4 separate regions of the Homo sapiens genome follow, and regions 1, 3 and 4 are each linked to region 2. Evidence: fine-mapped expression QTL. A gene starts in region 2. Each other region holds a variant in brackets. All regions are shown on one strand. Distances are between the middles of the regions.

Region 1 (5,257 bases), 45 kb after region 2:
TGTGAACACACACAATGTATTATCCAGCCTGCCGTAGATGGAGGCAGTTTTGAAGCCATTATAAACAGGGCTGATGTGCACATTCTGCTGGAGAGAAACGGGTCCCAGGGTACAGGTAGGATGATCAGCTTCGGTAGATCCTGCCGGTTTTCCCATGCGCTGTGCCTGTCTGCACTCCACCAACGGCGAGCGGACCTTCCGGTAGTTAAACATCTTCACGAACTCTTGGACTTTCCTGCACACACAGAGAAGATAATTTTGGATGGCTCTTCCCTTCCCCCCACAACCTTCCTTAGGGCACTGGCTTTCAACTGATGTAAATATTTACTATGCCAAGCACTAGGAGGGCAGAGACAAACAAGACAAAGTCCTCACACTTAGAAACTCCCGGTGTGGCAGCTGAGATGGCCCAGGAAAGAACTATATTACCTTCAAAAAGAGAGGTACATGCGATGTTTGAGGTGGCATGAAGCTCAGTGGTGTTATATTGGAATGAGTGAGTGACCATCCTGGAGCCTTCCTGAAAGAGGTGACTTCATTTTTAAGTGATTTTAAATAATAGTTTAATGAATTAGTATTTCGTATTCAGTTAATAACATTTTTCTGATTTTAGGATTTGCTATAGAAATATTTGGAAACCGTAAAGTAGAACAAAAAAAAAAATGTAGGAATCATCTGAAATTCCAAATTCTACCACTCACAGTTAAGTGTTGTTAGATGTTAGATGTGGGATATTGCCTTTTAATTTCCACTCTGCGCCGCTACCCCCAGCCCCTACCCCAGAGCCGTCACTTCTGGCACTGGAGCGCAGCTTGCGTGGTTTTTTTTTTTTTTTTTTTTTTTTTTGAGACAGAGTCTCGCTGTCGCCCAGGCTGGAGTGCAGTGGCGCGATCTCGGCTCACTGCAAGCTCCGCCTCCCGGGTTCACGCCATTCTCCTGCCTCAGCCTCCTGAGTAGCTGGGACTACAGGCGCCCGCTACCTCTCCCGGCTAATTTTTTGTATTTTTAGTAGAGACGGGGTTTCACTGTGTTAGCCAGGATGGTCTCGATCTCCTGACTTCGTGATCCGCCCGCCTCGGCCTCCCAAAGTGCTGGGATTACAGGCGTGAGCCACCGCGCCCGGCCATTTGCGTGTTTTTAAGGTTGAATCAAGATCCTTCTTCTGGTGGTAGTGGTTTCTTTTTCTCCCTTCCCTTCCCTTCCCTTTCCTCCCCTTCCCTTTCCTCCCTCCCCTCCCCTCCCCTCCCTCCTTCCTTTTCTCCTTTTCTTTTTCTCTATTTTTAAATTAAAAAAAAAAATCTTGGATGGGCGCGGCAGCTCACACCTGTAATCCCAGCACTTTGGGAGGCCAAGGTGGGCAGATCACCTGAGGTCGGGAGTTCGAGACCAGCCTGACCAACATGGACCCCATCTCTACTAAAAATACAAAATTGGCCGGGCATGGTGGCGCAAGCCTGTAATCCCAGCCACTCGGGAGGCTGAGGCAGGAAAATTGCTTGAACCCGGGGGGCGGAGGTTGCAGTGAGCCGAGGTTGTGCCATTGCACTCCAGCCTGGGCAACAAGAACAAAACTCCGTCTCAAAAAAAAAAAAAAGAAAAAGAAAAAATCTTTTTCCTTTGAGCTGGAGCTGCAAAGAGAAGAATTTTTAAAAAGAAAAGAAACTTTTAAAAAATTAAAATACAAAAATTTTTCTTAGAGACAGGGTCTCGCTGTGTTGCCCAGGCTGGTCTCCAACTCCAGGCCTGAAGCGAACTTCCTCCAGCCTCAGCTTCCCAAGTAGCTGGGATTACAGGCATGTTACCACCATGCCTGGCTTTTTTTCTTTAAACAACTTTTAAAAAATGTTTTATTTTGTTTTTACTTAACATATAATAATTGGACTAGAGTGGTGTCTTATCTGTCACAACACTTTTCTAACGGTAGAGTGTGTATTACTGCTGTTTCCCACAACAAATGGTGTCATATCTTGGTTTTGGCTGAAGCAATAACATTTCCCAGTGAAACTCTTGCCACTTAAAATTCTTTGTCTTGTAACTCATGTGCAACAGGGTTAGTACATTTCTCAGCTGCCAGTGGGGTTGTTCTTTGTGATTTAACAGGAAGACCACAGTGTAAAAACATTCTTATGCCATTAATACATGCTTGTTTTAGGCTACTTGGAAAATTCAAAAAAATAAAGAGGAAATAATCATTCATAGTCCTACCACCCAGAGAAAACCACAGTTAATGTTTTGGTGTATTTCCTTCCAGTTTTTTTTTCCACCTAAACTCTTCAATTACATCCGACTTTAAATATATATATATTTTTTAAAAATTGTAAAGATAATACTGTATCTCAGCACAAAAGAAAATTTTGGAAATGCAGAAAAGACAATGGAAAAGAAAAATCAGTTGTCTGTGATGTCACCACCCAGAAATGGCCACACTTACCAGCCAGTTTTTTCACATATGTGACTCCTACCATTTTTATATCTCTTACCATAAACGACAAGCTCTAGAAGAGAATGTAGCAAATGTAGGGGTCCTGAAAGAAGGGGTGCACTCTGTTTTGTCCCTGATGTTCCTGGGACACAGGTAATTAAAAGGCTGAAGACCGAGTGCTGTAGAACAGGGCTTCTCAAGGTGTGGTCCGCAAAGCAGCAAAGCAGCAGCTTCTCCTGGGAGCTTATTAGAA[A/G]TACAATCGGAGCCTCACCAGTGGGCCGGGAATCTGTTGTAACAAGCCCTTGGGGGATTCAGATGCTTGCTCTCCTTACAGTTTGAGAAACACTGCACCAAAAGATTGGACTCTGGGAGGTAGGGGGCTTCAGATGAATTGAAAGTGGAAATTCACTTAGGAAATGGGACGGAACTGCTTTGCAGCATGGAACTCATTGACACTGACACAGCTGTTTGTGTGGTTAAGCTTCCTGAGACAGGGACCAGCTGGGTTTGGCATCCCAATGTTGAGCCCCATGCCTGGTCTGTAATAGGTGCTCACCGAATACTTGTTGAATGAATCAAGGAATGAATAAGTGAGTGAAAAAGGATCTCTAGAGCTGTGCCCCACATGCCTCTTTTTCTCTTTTTTTAATTTCTAGGATTGGAACATCAGTTAACATCTGACCACTGCCAGCCCACCCCCTCCCACCCACGTCGATTGCATCTCTGGGCTCCAGGGATAAAGCAGGTCTTGGGGTGCACCATGATTTCACCATTCTTAGTACTGGCCATTGGCACCTGCCTTACTAACTCCTTAGTGCCAGGTATGCTTGGGGACACAGGTGGAGGCATAAAAAGGTGGTGCAGATGGGGTATGATGAGGGCAGTGTCTATGTTTTAAGGTCCCAGAACCATCCAAAGTATTTAAGAGCTGAAAACAGTGTTCAGAGCAGGAAACCTCAGCCCTGCTACTTGCATGTGTTAGTTGGATAGGTCACTCTTTTCCCATATATATATATATACACACATACACATATATGAAATATATATATACAAGGAAAATATATATATACAAGGAAATATATATTTTCCACATATATATTTTTCCATATATATATTTCATATATATATTTTTCCATATATATATTTCATATATATTATATATATTCTTTCTTAATTTTTTTTTTTTTGAGACAGGGTTTCGCTCTGTTGCCCAAGCTAGAGTGCAGTGGCGCCATCTTGGCTCACTGCAAGCTCTGCCTCCTGGGTTCACGCCATTCTCCTGCCTCAGCCTCCCAAGTAGCTGGGACTACAGGTGCCCGCCACCGCGCCAGGCTAATTTTTTGTATTTTTAGTAGAGATGGGGTTTCACCGTGTTAGCCAGGATGGTCTCGATCTCCTGACCTCATGATCCGCCTGCCTCGGCCTCCCAAAGTGCTGGGATTACAGGCGTGAGCCACCGCGCCTGGCCTGTCTGTCTGTCTGTCTGTCTGTCTGTCTTTCTTTCTTTCTTTCTTTCTTTCTTTCTTTCTTTCTTTCTTTCTTTCTTTCTTTCTCTCTTTCTTTCTTTTTCTTTCTTTCTTTCTTTCTCTTTTCTTTCTTTCTTTCTTTCTTTTCTTTTTCTTTCCTTTCTTTCCTTTCTTTTCTCTCGCATCCGAGTGAAGAGACCACCAAACAGGCTTTGAGTGAGCAACAAGGCTGTTTATTTCACCTGGGTGCAGGCGGGCTAAGTCCAAAAAGAGAGTCAGCCAAGGGAGATATGGGTGGGGCCGTTTTATAAGATAGGGGTAGGTAAAGGAAAAATTACAGTCAAAGGGGGGTTCTCTGGCGGGCAGGAGTGGGGGTCACAAGGTGCTCAGTGGGGGAGCTTTTTGAGCCAGGATGAGCCAGGAGAAGGAATTTCACAAGGTAATGTCGTCAGTTAAGGCAAGGACCGGCCATTTTCACTTCTTTTGTGGTGGAATGTCATCAGTTAAGGTAGGAACAGACCATTTAAATTTCACTTCTTTTGTGATTCTTCAGTTACTTCAGGCCGTCTGGATGTATATGTGCAGGTCACAGGGGATATGATGGCTTAGCTTGGGCTCAGACGCCTGACACTTTCTTTTTGAGACAGAGACAGACTCTCACTCTGTTTGCCCAGGATGGAGTGCAGTGACGTGATCTCAGCTCACTGCAACCTTCGCCACCCAGGTTCAAGTGATCCTCCTGCCTCAGCCTCCTGAGTAGCTGGGATTACAGGCGTGCGCCGCAACACCCGGCTAATTTTTTGTATTCTTATTAGAGACGGGGTTTCATCATGTTGGCCAGGCTGATCTCGAACTCCTGACCTCAAGTGATCCACCCGCCTTGGCCTCCCAAAGTGCTGGGATTACAGGTGTGAGCCACTGTGCCCAGCCTTTTTCTTGTCATTTGTAGTTCTCACTAGTGAACTCATCTTCAACAGGAGTTTTTTGTTTTTCTTTTTTTTGAGACAGTGTCTCTCTCTGTCGCCCAGGCTGGAGTGCAGTGGCGCAATCTTGGCTCACTGCAAGCTCCATCTCCCGGGTTCACGCCATTCTCCTGCCTCAGCCTCCCAAGTAGCTGGGACTACAGGTGCCCGCCACCACGCGCAGCTAATTTTTTTGTACTTTTAGTAGAGACGGGGTTTCACCATGTTAGCCAGGATGGTCTCGATCTCCTGACCTCAGGTGATCCGCCTGCCTTGGCCTCCTAAAGTGCTGGGATTACAGGCATGAGCCACCGCACCCGGCCGAGTTTTTTGTTTTTCTGTTGGAGATTCACGCGGAAGTGTTTCCACAGCATGGCATGGTGTTTTCAGGACACTAGGGGTTCAAC
Region 2 (5,000 bases):
ACTTAACAGATACGGAATAAATGGATGAATGGAAAAAGCCCTGGACTGGGAATAGTAAACCTGGTAACCAAACCCAGCTCTGACCCTGACCTGTAAGTAACTACTATCTCTGGCCTTGGTGTACCCCATGTATAGTGGGGATTGTAAACACCTGCCCTGCCCACCTTATGATACTGCTGTGAGACTCAAAAGACATCATTAGCTCTTAGGCACAGGGAGCTTGGAGGTTAAATCCAATTTGTTTAGTTTTCAACAAGGAAGTGGTGCCCCAGGGACAATGATGGAGAGAAATCGAATGTAATGAGCTGTTGCCACCAGCTGAGTGGTCCTGAAATCATGGCATCTGGGTTGCACTTAGAGATTGTCCAGTTCAAAAGGCCAGAAGGAATCTGAACCTCGATGGGAAAAGTGACTTGCTCAGCTCCCCAGCAAGCCAGGGCAGAGCTGGAGGATGGACTGGAGTCTCCTGGTTCCAGGTCCAGGACTTCTTTCCGCTGTGTTGACAGAGCCAGGAGGAGGGGCACCCGGGGAGCAGGGGAGGCAAGGGCTGCTGGATGCCCCATCTCAGTTGAATTCTCCTTGAGGGACCCAGCCCAGGAGCAGAGTAAGAGGGTTTGAGGGTGGAAGGTGGCAGGGCTGGCCAAGCAGTATAGTCCCTGCTGCTGATAACCAATCCCTGAAATCCCGAGGTGGAGGGACTTGAGGGCAAATCACAGACATGGGGGACCTAATGCTGGCCATGTGGCTCAACCAGAAGTGCCCGTCCCTCATAGCTTTGGGGAGATCAGAAGTCAGGGATAGGGTCGGGTGTGGTGGCTCATGCCTGTAATCCCATCACTTTGGGATAAGGAGGCAGGGGGATCACTTGAGCTTAGGAGTTCGAGACCAGCCTGAGCAACATAGCAAAACCCTGTTCTTTACAAAAAAATACAAAAATTAGCCGGGCGTGGTGGTGCACACCTGTAGTCCTGGCTGCTGGGGAGGCTGAGGTGGGAAGATCACTTGAGCCCGGGAGGTCGAGGCTGCAGTGAGCTGACATCATGCTACTGCATTCCAGCCTAGGCAATAGAGTGGGACCCTGTCTCAAAAAAAAAAAAAAAAAAAAGTCAGGGGTGCTGGCCCCATGATAGGTGCAATGGGTGCCTCCAATTCCCTCTGGCTCTGCCTCCCAGCCTCTGTCCAAGCAACAGGCAGATTTTCCATGCCTGGGGACTTGCCCCTGGCTCACTGATGATGATACCATCTTAAGTCTCCTGGAATCCTTAAACCCTTCCTTGGCATTTGTGAGCAAGTATTGAGCCCCTCCCATGTTTTAGGCCCAGTGCTGGGTGCTTTCACCTGCAATTTCTTACAGAGGATGGTATTTCCTAAACTCCATTCATTTGCTACCTCCATGATTTTTGCCATATCACCCAACCCATGAAATACATAAATAAATAGTATTTACTCAATATTTTGACTCACTTTTAAAAAACATAAACTTATCTGAAAAGGGAACCTATGTCACGCCTCTAAATAAACAGTATCAACCAAAAATACAAAAGAAACAAAAATAAATACAAAGACATTCTTGGTTTCTGGCACCAGGCCCCAGTTCTGGCTCCAACCTTACTGAGAAGTCACATGATCTCTCTGGGCCTCAGTTTTCTCCTCTGGAAAATGGAGCTTTTGGAAGTTAATGCATGCACAGTGCCTGGCCCTGAGACTGGCATGGAGTGAGTGGAAGAGAGGTTGCCTGACCTGGCTAAAATTGGTTCTCTGGGCAGACATTTTCCCAAGGGCCACTGAGAAGACCCTCCTGTTAGGAGTCAGTGAGCTCTGTCGCTGGAGGCATTCAAACAGAGCCTGCGGACTTCTCACTGCGAAGTTGCCCAGAGAATTCAGTGCTCAGAGGAAAGGGAGTGGTTATTCCATCAGAGCTGGTTCCCCAGGAGCGGGAGCAGGGCCTGTAGCACCCAGCCTCTGTCCCTGGCTCCCGTCTATCCGGGATTTTAGCGTTTCCTCTGTAGTTTTCAAGCACTGTCTCATATGACTCTCGCACCAGCGAGAGGCCAGGGGAGATGGTGTCTGCCTGTTAAAGAGGGGCAGGCTGGTCCACATAGGTCAAGTGACTTGGCCAAGGTCACCAGAGCAGAGTTTTGAACTTGAGCTGTCTGACTCAACTGCCTGGGAAGTGCCTGCCCCTCCTCTGGCATCCAGGGAGCATGTCCTGGGGCTCTGGCTGGGACATAGCCGGACACCTGCGGGCCCTTTACGTCTCTAAAGAGAGAAAGAGGGAAGGGCCCCTGTCTAGGGGGTGGTTTCCCTCCAGATGCCACCCCTCCGAGGTCCCCTTCTGCTTCTTCTTGCGGTAGCCAGGGAGGCAGCCCACGGGCAGGGAAGCGGGGGTGGGGGTGCAGAGTCAGAGGTGCACGTGGACAGAGACAGAGAGACAGGGACACGTGGGCAGAGACGGATAAAGACAGAGACCCAGAGAAAGCCAGATATGTTGACAGACACAGAGACAGACGCCAGAGAGGAAGGCAGACAAAGAGACGGGTGGAGACAAAGACTCCCACCAAGAGACGCAGAAGGAAGATGCCGACGGTAAAGACAAAACAGGAGACGCGCGCAAGGAGCAGGTCAGAGCCCAGGCTCGCTGAGAGAGGAAGGGCTGGGCTGGGGCAGCCCGGAGGCAGAGAGACCGAGAGTGCGGGGCGGGCGAGGGACGCCAGGGCCGCGTCACCCCAGCCCGTTCCTAGCTCCGCTCCCGGCAGGGGGCGCCCTGGCCTCGTGGCACGACCGGCCCGCGGGGCGCGGGGCTCGGGCCGGGGGCGGGGCCGGGGCCGGGCTGGGGAGGGGTTGGGGCCGGGGGCGGGGGAGGGGGCGGGCTGCCCGGGCCTCACTCGGGCCCCGCGGCCGCCTTTATAAGGCGGCGGGGGTGGTGGCCCGGGCCGCGTTGCGCTCCCGCCACTCCGCGCCCGCTATCCTGGCTCCGTGCTCCCACGCGCTTGTGCCTGGACGGACCCTCGCCAGTGCTCTGCGCAGGTAAGGATTCGACGCTGCCCCGCGCCCTGGTTCCCCAGGGCCCCAGCGGACGTGGTCCATCCCCTTCTGCATCCTCCGCTGGCCCCGTGGTTGAACTTTAATGGCAGGGCCGGGGTCTCCAGCGCCACGCCGCCCACAGCAGCCCATTCGGGACGCCCTGCAATTGGTCCTGCCCCTGTCCTCCCGCGCATCCCAAGCTCCCGGCGCGCGCTCTGGGCGGGACAGGAGATTGGACGTGGCGCCCGCGGAGCCGGCGAACTCAGGGGACCGCGCTCGGGACCGCCCTGCAGTCCCAGGGTCTCCTACCTCCCGAGCCGCTGCCTGGGACCCTGCGCTCTGTCTGGGCACCTGCCCTTGGTGCCCCGTGACTGAGCCCCTCCTGGTGCCTCCTTAGCCGTAGCTCTAGAGACCTGGGCTGCCAACCCCAAGGCCTCGTGGCCTGGCGCCCTCCCAGGCGTCCCACCTGACCCGGTGGGGTCTAAAGCAGTTTGGTTTGGGAGGAGGAGAGGGCAGGAGGCGCTTGGAATGGGGGGCGTGGCGGGAGGAGACAGAGGACACCCGCGTGGGTGTCAAAGTGTGGGCACCCACTGTGGGCACCGCAGCTGTGGGGCAAAGCTCTGGAGCCCGCGAAGCCGAAGGAGCCTGCCGCCCCCTTTAGGCTTTGCGAGGTGGGCCTCCCAGGGCTGCTTCCCTGCCCAGTCTTGGTAAGAAAGGGTTAAACGCAGGTCTCAGCAGAAAGGCAGGAGGCCGAGGAAAGCCTCCCCCACTCCCCATTGTGCCTTATGACTCTTTTTCAACACATAATGGGGTCGAAGGCGGGGCCTTTACAAAGGCCTCTGGGTGGAGGGTGAAATTCCTTGAGATCAAAAGAGGGGGCGATTCTTGGGCCAGGAAGGGCTTTGGGCCCTGGGAAAAAGTCAGACCGCTCAGGTGGGCCCAGCTGCCCAGGGAGGCAGGGGTTGGGTCCCAGCCTCAGTGTAGATACTGCAACTGTTTTTTGAAGGCCTACCGTGCGTAGAGGGACCTGCTCTGACATCTCATGTACATCATTTCATTTTACAAATGGGGAAACTGAGGCTTAGACAATTTAAGTAAGTGGTGGGACCAGGGTTTGAATCCAGACTCCAAACTCTGCAGCCCTAGCGTCCTGCTCCCACTGTGTTGCCTAAGAGATAGGGGGCTGAGCCTTGGTTTTGTCTTCCGGCTCCTCCTGGGCTCAGCCCGCTCTTCCTCCACTCTCCAGTCTTGCTCTTTCCAACTGTTTAGTCCTCCCCACCTGTGGGTGTCCCCACGCTGTCCTGCCCCAGCCATCCCACTCCCTGGCCCCATGCATCTTGTTCCTGTGTCACCTTTTTCTTTCTTTAACTGAATACCTGTGAATTCCCTCAGAAGAGGCCCCTGGACACAGCTTCTCAACATCCCAACTGGTGAAGACTAGGCTGAGTGATGATCCCGGTCCATGTGCCCATTTGTAAAAAGGGGTGTATTCCCCTTTCGGGACTATTGTGAGGAATAAAACTGAACTGAGGCCAGAACAAGATGCTATCTTCATTCAGCAAATACTTAAGCATCCGCCGTGTGCCAAGCTCTGTTCTAGGTGCCGGGAATGCCACAGTAAATCAGCCAAAAGCCCTCTTCTGGATTGGATGTTTGCATAACAAAATTCTTTCAGGCTTTGAAACTGTCAGAATTCACAGTGTAGACTTGAAATCAAGCTATTCATAAGGAAGGAGATTAAGACGCAATCACCTGTAAAATGGATTGGCCAACCTTTGGCCCTCACTTTAGCAAAGGCAGCCTTGCTGTGGGACCTGGGATCAGTTCTGTTCCCTCTCTGTGCCTCGGCCTCCTCCCATAAGCTGTGGAGATCAATAGTGCCTACCAGTGGTGAGGTCTAGATATGATGAATGCTTGCGAAGGGTTTAAGCTGGTACCTGTGCTTAAGAAAATCCTGGCTATCCTCAGCTCTCTTC
Region 3 (5,228 bases), 54 kb after region 2:
TGTTTAGAGAAAGAGAAAGACCCCAAGTACTGGCGAGACCAAGCGCAAGAGACACTGAAATATGCCCTGGAGCTTCAGAAGCTCAACACCAACGTGGCTAAGAATGTCATCATGTTCCTGGGAGATGGTGAGGCCCAGGGGCCTGTGGGAGGGGTGGAACAGGACACCTAGCTAGGAGCCCCGGGAGCCAGGCTGAGTTGAAGGGGGCTGTGTTGAAGGGGCTAGGGCTCTGGAGGAAGGGTGTTTAAAAGGATGAGGGGCCAGGCTGTGGATTCAAGAGGCCTGCTCTGCCAGACAGCCCCCTGAGGATCTGGGGGTGAAGGGAGAGAGGGGCTGCTCACTGACATTTACAGAGCCATGCCCAGTGCCAACTGCCCGAGCCTGCCTTGGTACCGAACTAGAGAGCTTCTGGGTACCCAAGCAGGCTGATTGGAGAGGCAGGAGCACGAGAGACTGAGGCCCCCACTCCCCACTGCAGGGATGGGTGTCTCCACAGTGACGGCTGCCCGCATCCTCAAGGGTCAGCTCCACCACAACCCTGGGGAGGAGACCAGGCTGGAGATGGACAAGTTCCCCTTCGTGGCCCTCTCCAAGGTGAGCCCCATCCCCAAGCCCAGTTCAGGTCTGTATATCCAGTATCCAGGTCGAGCATCTGAACATGACAGCAGCCAGAGGTCCCCTGACCCCCTGAGCCCCCTCCATGCCCAAGCCCACTCCCCACCTGGAGCAGCCACTGCCCTGACTTCTGACACCATAGCATCACTGTACCTGCTTGCGGGTGTGTGTTTAGAGAGAGGGTCTTGCTCTGTTGCCCAGGCTGCAGTGCAGTGGTGCAGTCATAGCTCACTGCAGCCTCCAACTCCTGGGCTCAAGCCATCCTCCCACGTTAGCCTCCCGAGTAGCTGGGACTACAGGTGTGTACCACCACATATGGATAATTAGAGACCCCCCCAAGGTCTCTAATTCTTGGGCTTAAGCGATCCTACAGCCTTGGCCTCCCAGTCTTGGGATTACAGGCGTGAGCCACCATGCACGGCCTATATATGCCTTTTTTTTTTTTTTTTTTTTGAGACAGTCTTACTCTGTCTTCCAGGCTGGAGTACAGTAGCATGACATCAGCTCACTGCAACCTCTGCCTCCCGAGTTCAAGTGATTCTTCTGCCTCAGCCTCCCAAGTAGCTGGGATTACAGGCATGCGCCACCATGCCCAGCTAATTTTTTTATTTTTAGTAGAGACAAGGTTTCACCCTGTTGGCCAGGCTGGTCTCGAACTCCTGACCCCAGGTGATCTGCCCACCTTGGCCTCCCAAAGTGCTAGGATTACAGGCATGAGCCACCGTGCCTGGCCTGTATACACTTTTGCATGAAGTTCCAGTTCATTCATTCTTTCCCGAGGCAGTTCGTGAAGTTAATTAGACTATAGGCATACCTCAGCTATACTTCGGGTTTGGTTCCAGGCCACTGTAATAAAGCAAATATTGCAATGAAGCAAGTCACACATTTTTTGGTTTCCCAGTGCATATAAAAGTTATGTTTGCACCCTACAGTAGTCTTTTAAGTGTGGGATAGCATTATGTCTAAAAAAATGTATATACCTTAATTTAAAAATATGCTATTGCTAAAAAACGCTAATGAAGTGAGCTCATGTTTTTGGAAAAAATGATGCTGATAGACTTGCTTGACACAGGGTTGCCACAGATCTTCAATTTGTAACAAACACAGTGTCTGTGGAGTACACTAAAATGAGGTGTGCCTGTACTGACCTAGGTTGTTCAAGGCAGTGTGCACTGCCGGGTAGCTATTGCTATTGGTGGTGGTGATAGTGGTGTTATGTAATAACCTCCAGACCCTGGGTCAGGCCCCAGGCTCACTTCTGGGGGAGTAGTGGGGACTATGGTGCCTTCTGTGCCTTCAAGGTGCTCTCAGGCTGGTGGGGAAGGGAGACAGGCAAATAGTTTTGGGGTCTCTGCTAAACATCCGGATGTAGGGCAACCCTGTGATGGTGGCCGCAGGGCAGGTGGCAGAGAAGTCAGCGCTGGTCTTGGCCCCACCCTTCCCTTCCCCAGTCCCCTTCCCCCTCACTTTCACTACCCTATCCCCAGACCCCCCACTCCTTCAAGAAGGCCCCTCCCTCTCCCTTCTCCAGGACTCCCCTGCTCCCCAACCCCTTGCTGGCTCCTGCAGCCCCAGGCCCGGAGAGAGGCCTCCGCTGACCCCACCTGAGCCCC[A/G]ATCTTCCGCCGGACACTTCTCTGTACTTTGGAGAGCTAAGGTCCTGCCCCAGTGCTGCCAGGGTGCAGGGAATGATGGCAGGAAGCAGGCAGCTAGGTAGTCCTGTGGCTCTGGGGGGCTTCAGTGGGCAGTGGGCCTGGTCAAGGCTATGGGGTCCTCTCTGGTCCCTCACGCCCCAGTCCCCATGGTGTGAGTGTAGGCGGGGTGGGTGCCACTGGGGCGAAGGCCTGGCCATCTCCTGACCCTCCTCTCCCACCTGCAGACGTACAACACCAATGCCCAGGTCCCTGACAGTGCCGGCACCGCCACCGCCTACCTGTGTGGGGTGAAGGCCAATGAGGGCACCGTGGGGGTAAGCGCAGCCACTGAGCGTTCCCGGTGCAACACCACCCAGGGGAACGAGGTCACCTCCATCCTGCGCTGGGCCAAGGACGCTGGTGAGTCGGGGGAGCAGTGGGGAGCAGGGCCAGCTTCGTGGCCTGTCCAGGCCTCAGTCTTTCTGACTGTGTCATGGGAAGGGGCTAGAAAAGGCTTCTCTGTGGGGCTCCCAGCTCTGATATGCTGGGAGTCTGTAATATCCATGGGATTCCTTCCGTGACAGGGGAAGCTGAGGGTTTGGGGTTCACTCAGTGGTGGGTTCTGGTCCCAGTTCATTTCTCTGAGTCGATTCTTCATTTGACTATAAAACGGGTGGGAACGTAGCCCCCTCATAGGGTTGGTGTGAGGAGGGAGAAGTCAGCCCAGGGCTAGCCTGTGGGGTGCAGTCCATGGCCACGCCCCTTCCCTCCTCAGAATTGGGAGGCCCAGCCTGTGCCCCCAGAAGCTTTAGTCAGGGGCCAAGGCCAAAACACAGGTGACAAGGCCAACATACAGGTGACAGAGCCACAGTCCACTTGAGATCCCTCAGGGGTCCTGTGGGCGCCTTGATGAAGGGGAGGACTCCAGCCCAGGTGCTCACATCTCAAGGGCCTTCGGGGTGAGGGGAGAGGGTTCCAGAGGCAGTGTTCTGGCTGCTCGGCTACTTGGAAGCCACTGCCAGACACCTGCTGCTGTGGATGGGGAGACTGAGACCCGGGCAATCCTCAGAACTGAAGCGGGGGCCTGTCTTTAGCGGGGAGGGGGAAGGGAGGGAGGAGGCCTCTGGGACACCCCGATCTGTGGATAAAGCCAAACCCGCCCCTCCTGCACCCCAGGGAAATCTGTGGGCATTGTGACCACCACGAGAGTGAACCATGCCACCCCCAGCGCCGCCTACGCCCACTCGGCTGACCGGGACTGGTACTCAGACAACGAGATGCCCCCTGAGGCCTTGAGCCAGGGCTGTAAGGACATCGCCTACCAGCTCATGCATAACATCAGGGACATTGACGTGAGTGCTCGGGGGCAGCCGGGCAGGGACGGGGTGAGGCGGGGCCTCTGGTGGGCAGGAGGCCTCAGGCCCAGGCTGGCCCGGAGAAAGCAGCCTGGCCTGGCTCCCCACACACCTGGGAGGCTCCCAGCCCATTAGGGGATTTGCGGTTGGGCAGGCAGGCACTGTGGGATTTCTCTGCGGTGGGGCTGCGGGGTGAACCCTCATGTGACCGCCACCACACCCCAAGAACCAGGCATCCAGGGATGATTCCATAAATTGAAACCTGGTGCTGTGCCCTCCTCTGCCCCCCACTACACGGGAGGTGGTGATGGCCAAGTGTCGTCTGCCTGCCCTGCGTATTCACATGGTCACAGATGGGTACATATCTGTACACTCAACCACCAGCATGCCCGGCAAAGAGCTGGTGTGTACAGTGGTTGGCTAGTGCCAGCTCTCGTGTTTAAACTTCCGAGTTCCAGACCTTGCCCTGCGTGTTGCTAGCTGTGTGACCTTGGGTCAGTTACTTAACCTCTCTGAGGCTTCCCTTTCACAACTCCTTTGTGAACTGTACCTGCCTCATAAGCTTATGCCAAGAACTGATTAAGATAATCCCTGTGGAGCTCAGCACAGGACCCGAGGCCTAGCGAGTGCCCAGAAGGTGGTGGCACTTACGCAGGAGCCACATGTCCTTGCCCTGAAACACACTTCAACAAACTGAGCTGACTCATGGAGACAGAAGTCATCCATGTGACGCTTACTCTCTGTTCTTAAGTGAGAATGCCCGGCTCGTTCCTTTTCAGGCTTTTATTGCCTACTGTGGGGGACTGCTGAGGCGATCTGGGGACTTCTGCCCCTTGAGCCTGGAATGGGGATTCGGTGAGGGGCAGAGAAAGCCCCCCTGCCCAGCTACACCTCACCTCTTTCTCTCCACCACCAGACAAACTCACCTGCCTTCAGCCCTCCATGCACTGCCCCCCACAAATTTCTGGGGGCTACTTGGCCCCTCCACAGTAGAGACCCACGTCTGCCCTTTTCCCAGCATGGTGGATTAAGTACCCGCTTTCAGGACACACAGTGCTGTTGGCCCCTTTCACTGAACAGACATCTGAGGCCAAGCCACTCATCCTGGCTTGCCTTCACCCGACATGTGGCCTGGGGCGAGTTCCTTCCCCTCCCTATGCCTCAGTTTCCCCACCTGTGCAGCAGAAACAGAGAGCCACACTTGCTTGCTCCCAGGGCCGTGGGAGGCCGTGATGAGGTCATGGATGTGAGAACATTTGTTGTACAGGCACAGGGTATAATTACATGGGGACTGCTCCTCAGAGGGGTTTGTCAGGGACAGCCTGAGCAGGGGACAGGAACTTGAAGGAAATTCGAGGGGAGGGAAGATGTTTCAGGTGAGGGGGTGGGAGATGAGGAGGGGGGGCCGCAGGGGCCACGTCAAGGGGCACAAGCCAGGGAGTGAGTGAGGACGGAGGACCTGTGTGAGGATCCCTTTCTTTCCTCCTCTTCCTTTCTCTCCCAGCCCCACCTGCCTCTCCGTCACCACCCCCCCAAAAGCCTCCCAGTCCCCAGACTGTACATGAAACAAAAATCCTGGTGTCCACCCTGAAAATAAATACTGTTGCTTAAAAAAAAAAAAGAAAGA
Region 4 (5,000 bases), 32 kb after region 2:
TCCTCCAGTGACGTAGGCTCTCACCAGGATGGTCCCCATTTGACGGGTGAGGTGGTGTGCCCAAGGTCAATGGGGGCCTGCTGAGCTGCATGCCCTTGGGTGGGACCTCACCTCCATAGGCCCCAGTTTCCTGTCTGGGGCTCTCGGCGTCAGCCCTGCCCTACTATGTCCCAAGGTCGCCGCGGAGATCAAACGCAAAAGCCACCGGAGCCTTCTGTGGCCGGCTGGAGCGTCCTCTGGGAATGCGAGGAACGCTGTTATCTGGAGCCCAGCTGCCCTGAGCACTGTCTCTGGGAACACCCGCGTCCTTCCTCCTCTGATCTGAGCCCTCTGCGCCCGCCACCCAGGGATTCGGCTTGTGCTGGCCGCTGCCCAGCAAGCTACAAGTTCATTGTCCCTTTTCCCACAGCCCGGCGCCTCCTCAGCCTCCTCTCACAGGGCCTGCGTGGGGCCATCTGCACAATGGACACATCCTCTGCTAGGGGGAGGGGAGTGGGGAGAGCCGGGATTGGCCAATGCCCTGTCTTGAGGATGAGTTGAAGGAGGGGATTATGGGTGGGGGTGGCCAGGGTGCGCCCACCTGGCCGGGGGCAGAGCCAGGTCTTGAATGCCAGGTCTTGAATCTGGGATCCTCCCCTCCCTGCCACTGCAAGCCCCAAGTGAGTTGCACTGCAGGGCTGGCTACAAGATACCGTGCAAAGATCAGAAGAGACTTGGACCCTAGATGTGACATTCTCTTGCTGTGTGACCTCTGGCAAGTCACCTCACCTCTCCTGTAAAGTTATGATTATAGGAAGCCCTCCCACTGGGAACCGTGGTGCAGATACAATGAAATAACATTTGGGAACAGAGTGTAGTGAGTGTGAATCAAATAGCAGCTGCACGCAATCCCTTCATCTGCAAAAGTATAATGTGTCTGTGTAATGTACATATTGCAGAGAGGGCAAATGGTGGTTTGTTTCCAGTCTTGCCTCCTGTTTGAGGAGTTTATGCTTAGTCCTGGGAGACAGAAACATCCCCAAGTAAGGCTGAATTCTGGCTCGCTCACTTACTGGCTGTGTGACCTTGGGCATGCTCCTTAATCTCTCTGTGCTTCTGTTTTGTCATCTGTAAAATGGGGATAATAATAGTGCTTACCTTGAAGGTTGTTGTGGGGATCAAGTGAGTTAATATAGGTAAAGTGTTTAGAACAATGCCTGGCACATAATAAGGTCTATGAAAAGGTTTGTTATTATTAATCTTATGAATACGATGACAAAATATGTAAAATAGGATTTTTCTAAAATAGTCTCAGTTTGAAATATTTTCATCAGTTGCCGCAAATCACTAATGTACGGAAGTCCAAGACATTGGCATCCAAGCTGCGCCTTGAACACTGCCTTGCCTTTCCAGTAATTGCCCCCCAAATCCTCAGCTGGTTAGTGGGGAGACCTATCCCTGCCCCTGATGTGCTGTGTGACACTGGGGAGGTTGTGTACCCTCTCTGTGTCTTCCTTTTCTTTTTCCTTTTTTTTTTTTTTTTGAGATGGAGTCTCACTCTGTCACCCAGGCTGGAGTGCAGTGGCACGATCACAGCTCATTGCAAGCTCCACCTCCCGAGTTCACACCATTCTCCTGCCTCAGCCTCCCGAGTAGCTGGGACTACAGGTGCCCGCCACCCAGCCCAGCTAATTTTTTGTATATTTTTAGTAGAGACAGGGTTTCACCGTGTTAGTCAGGATGGTCTCGATCTCCTGACCTCGTGATCTGCCCACCTCTGCCTCCCAAAGTGCTGGGATTACAGGCTTGAGCCACCGCGCCCGGCCTGTGCCTTCCTTTTCTTGTTGTTTGTGAGAGCAAGGATGGGCCGGCCATGTCTCCTAGTACCAGGGAGGCTCCCCCTGCAGAGGGCTGAGGGAAGTGCTGGAGGAGGTGGTTGGCGAACACCGCAGATGTAGTGCGTGCGCCACCCTCCCCCACCGCTTTCTGTACTTGGCATCTAGGCTTGGCACAGAGTGAGGTGGCCTGGGGCAGAACATGTCCTTTCCATGGCATGGCAGAAGGCTGTGTGCCTGCAAAGCAGCCATGCTCCGCCCCCGACCCCTGCCTGGGCACTGCAGGCCCCAGGCATGGTGTCTCTGGGCCCTGCTATCTCCCTCCCCTGCGATCTCCCTACTGCGCCTCCCTGCTGCTTCTCTCCTGCCACTAGTCCTCTGGCTTCAGTCCTCTGCCCACAGAGTTGGTTTGGGGCATCATGACCGTCCTGGAGCCTCAGGGACCCCCAGAGAAGCTTTGGCTTCTCTGAACCCAGACCCTCAGGGTTTCTGATTCCAGCTCTGCTGTGTGGCCTTGAGTAAGTGACAGTCAGAGCCTCACCCTCCTCACCTGTAAAATGGAGCTGGCAATGGGGCATGTAGTGAGATGAGGCATGCAGAGGGCCTGCTCTCCACCAGGCCGTGCTTGGGGAGCAGAGCCCTTTGTGGTGGGTCCAGGCTGCCCCTCTGTCCTGAATGCAAGCCGCCTGCTCGTGCCTTTCTCCCTGAACCCCAAACTCCACACATTCCTGCCTCCTTGCCTTTAAACACTCAGGTCCTGTTGGGAGTGTCCTCTCTCTCTCTCTGCTCATCTCAACCCCATCATCCTTCCAGCCTGGTGCTCGACCCACCCCCACGGACACTTCTGGCCCATACCCTGTCCTAGACTTTCTCTCTCTCCCCTTCAAGATGGAAAGGAAGTGTCAGGCTACCTGGCAGGTTACTCCTTTCTTCCCAAGTGAGTGTGTGAGGGAGAGAGAGATCTGGTTCTCTTTGGAGATGGGAGCCCTTTGACTGTAAGAATAGGACCTCTGCCGCTTAAGAACAGGCCCTT[T/C]GAAGGGAAAGTACTCAGCAGGCAGGTGAGCTTCTGGGTTCTAGAGTCTCAGAGCTGGAAGGACTGTCTGCAGCCATCCAGGTGAACAGGTCTCTGGGAAATCCCAAAGCATATGGTGGCTTGATCGAGTGGGCGGGGAAGGGTCCATCCGTTCTCTGCTCCAGCCCCTCATCTGCCCCACTTGCCCATCTCTGCCCCGCAGTCCATCCACCTCATTTGCTCCCCCTCCCCATAACCCTAGCTCCTGACTGACATTCACTCAGCACCTACCACATCCCAGCCTCCGTTTTACACCCTTGTGTGTATGAAGGCATCCTTACAACAACGCAGTGGCTTCTATTAGGTGTGGAGGGGTGAGGTCACCTGCTCTGAGCTGCCCAGCTGGTGAGGGGCAGAGGCAGGATCAGAATCCAGGCAGCCTGGCTCCAGCATCCATCTTCACTGCTGCTGAGCTGTCTCTTCAGCCACCCACCCTCTGACCCCATCATCCTTCCACCTAGCGACATTCCCTGGCCACCCGGCCTGTGCCGGCCTCTGCCAGCCACGGGGCTGCTGCCATCAGCAGAGCAGGATTCCAGCTCCCTAGGAGCTCACCACGGTGAGAGGGTGACAACCTATGATTCTCTAAGGCTCTGATTAATTTCACCAAGGGCTTCATGGCACTGGGTGCTGGGAGCTTGGGGAGGAGCCGAAACTGCTGTCTGGGCTGGGGTAGGGTAGGGAGAGGGCAGGGGGAGGGATTCATTGGTTGGACAGCATGGGACATTCTAGTCTGGGAAGCACAGAGTGCAGAGGTGTTGAGGCTGGGAGCGCTCAGGGGACAGCTGGGTTCTCATCAAAGCCCTAAAGATGCAGTGGCTTGGCACCAGGCCTCTGGGGTACTTCCACGTCTGTTTCCTGCCAGGATGGGGTGCTGTCAATGGCTAGAAGTCTGAGCCTTACTATAATCCCCAGCACTGGCCCACTGCCCTCTAGGGAAGTCCTTCCTTGGATCTGACCTGCAGCCCACTCTGAAACCACCACACATTCCTGCGCAAGCACTTCATCCAGCTCTTCATGACAGCCATAAATAACTTCCTCCAGTAATGAATACAGTCCTGGCCAGCAAGGCTTGCCAGAGATGCTGGGCTTGGCGGAGAGAGGAATTCCATGTCCCTTCCCTATGACTCTGCAGCTGAAATGTTACTGGGCTGGTCTTCAGCAGGGCTCCCTCCCTAGGCAGCTATGCAGGTGCCCCCCAGCCCCTGCCTCATTCCTCATGCCCACCAGGGACACAAGGGCAACTCAGCACTCCTCTCTAGCCACAGCTCCTTGGAAGAGCCCAGAAGGCCCAGCTGACAGGCTAGGGGATGCTGGCTCCAAGCTGACTCAGTTCCCTATGTGTGCCTCTGGTGGGGAGCAGCTGAGAGATGCAGGGTCTGCTTATAGTGGTTCCTCTCACCGGGCAAGGCTTTCCTCCTCTTTAGGCCTCAGTCTTCCCATTTGGACAATGGGATGATCTCTAAGACAAAGTTTCCCAAATGAATCTGCTCAGAAAATGACTTGTTAAAAATATAGCTTCCAGCCAGGCGCAGTGGCTCACGCCTGTAATCCCGGTGCTTTGGGAGGCCGAGGCGGGCGGATCACGTGAGGCCAGGAGTTCAAGATCAGCCTGGCCAACATGGTGAAACCCTGTCTCTACTAAAAACAAAAATTAGCCGGGCATGGTGGTGGGCCTGCAATCCCAGCTACTAGGGAGGCTAAGGCATGAGAATCGCTTGAACTCTGAAGGCGGAGGTTGCAGTGAGCCGAGATTGCGCTACTGCACTCCAGCTTGGGTGACAGAGCAAGACTCCATCCCCCCAATCCCCCCACCAAAAAAATACAGCTTCCAGCTGGGCACAGCGGCTTATACCTGTAATCCAAGCATTTTGGGAGGCTGAGGCAGGAGGATCACTTGAACCCAGGAGTTCGAGACTAGCCTGGGCAGCATAGTGAGACCCCACCTCTATTTTAAAAATGTAAACATTAACCAAATGTGGTAATGTGTGCCTGTAGTCCCAGCTACTTGGGAGGCTGAGGCAGGAGGATCGCTTAAGGCTGCAGTGAACTATGATCGTGCCACTGCACTCCAGCCTGGGCGACAGAGTAAGACCCTGTCTCAAAACAAAAAA

Evidence for each region.
Region 1: its variant is fine-mapped to the expression of ALPL in fibroblasts (GTEx, PIP above 0.99).
Region 3: its variant is fine-mapped to the expression of ALPL in whole blood (TOPMed, PIP above 0.99).
Region 4: its variant is fine-mapped to the expression of ALPL in whole blood (TOPMed, PIP 0.99).

Annotation. Positions count from the first base shown.
Region 1 is chr1:21,550,900-21,556,156 of GRCh38, forward strand. It overlaps ALPL (alkaline phosphatase, biomineralization associated), which reads left to right. Exons shown (of 12, transcript NM_000478.6): 2 at 3,079-3,243. The coding sequence starts at 3,183. Among named protein-coding and RNA genes, the nearest start is that of LINC02596, 33 kb to the right of the region's middle. The variant A/G (reference allele first, on the strand shown) is at 2,676.
Region 2 is chr1:21,506,491-21,511,490 of GRCh38, forward strand. ALPL (alkaline phosphatase, biomineralization associated) reads left to right here and starts at 2,933. Exons shown (of 12, transcript NM_000478.6): 1 at 2,933-3,027. RefSeq lists a silencer at 2,741-2,840 and enhancers at 2,876-3,446, 3,447-4,016.
Region 3 is chr1:21,560,619-21,565,846 of GRCh38, forward strand. It overlaps ALPL (alkaline phosphatase, biomineralization associated), which reads left to right. Exons shown (of 12, transcript NM_000478.6): 3 at 8-127; 4 at 479-594; 5 at 2,492-2,666; 6 at 3,423-3,598. Among named protein-coding and RNA genes, the nearest start is that of LINC02596, 23 kb to the right of the region's middle. The variant A/G (reference allele first, on the strand shown) is at 2,229.
Region 4 is chr1:21,538,151-21,543,150 of GRCh38, forward strand. All of the region lies in intron 1 of ALPL (alkaline phosphatase, biomineralization associated), which reads left to right. Among named protein-coding and RNA genes, the nearest start is that of ALPL, 31 kb to the left of the region's middle. RefSeq lists an enhancer at 1-342. The variant T/C (reference allele first, on the strand shown) is at 2,848.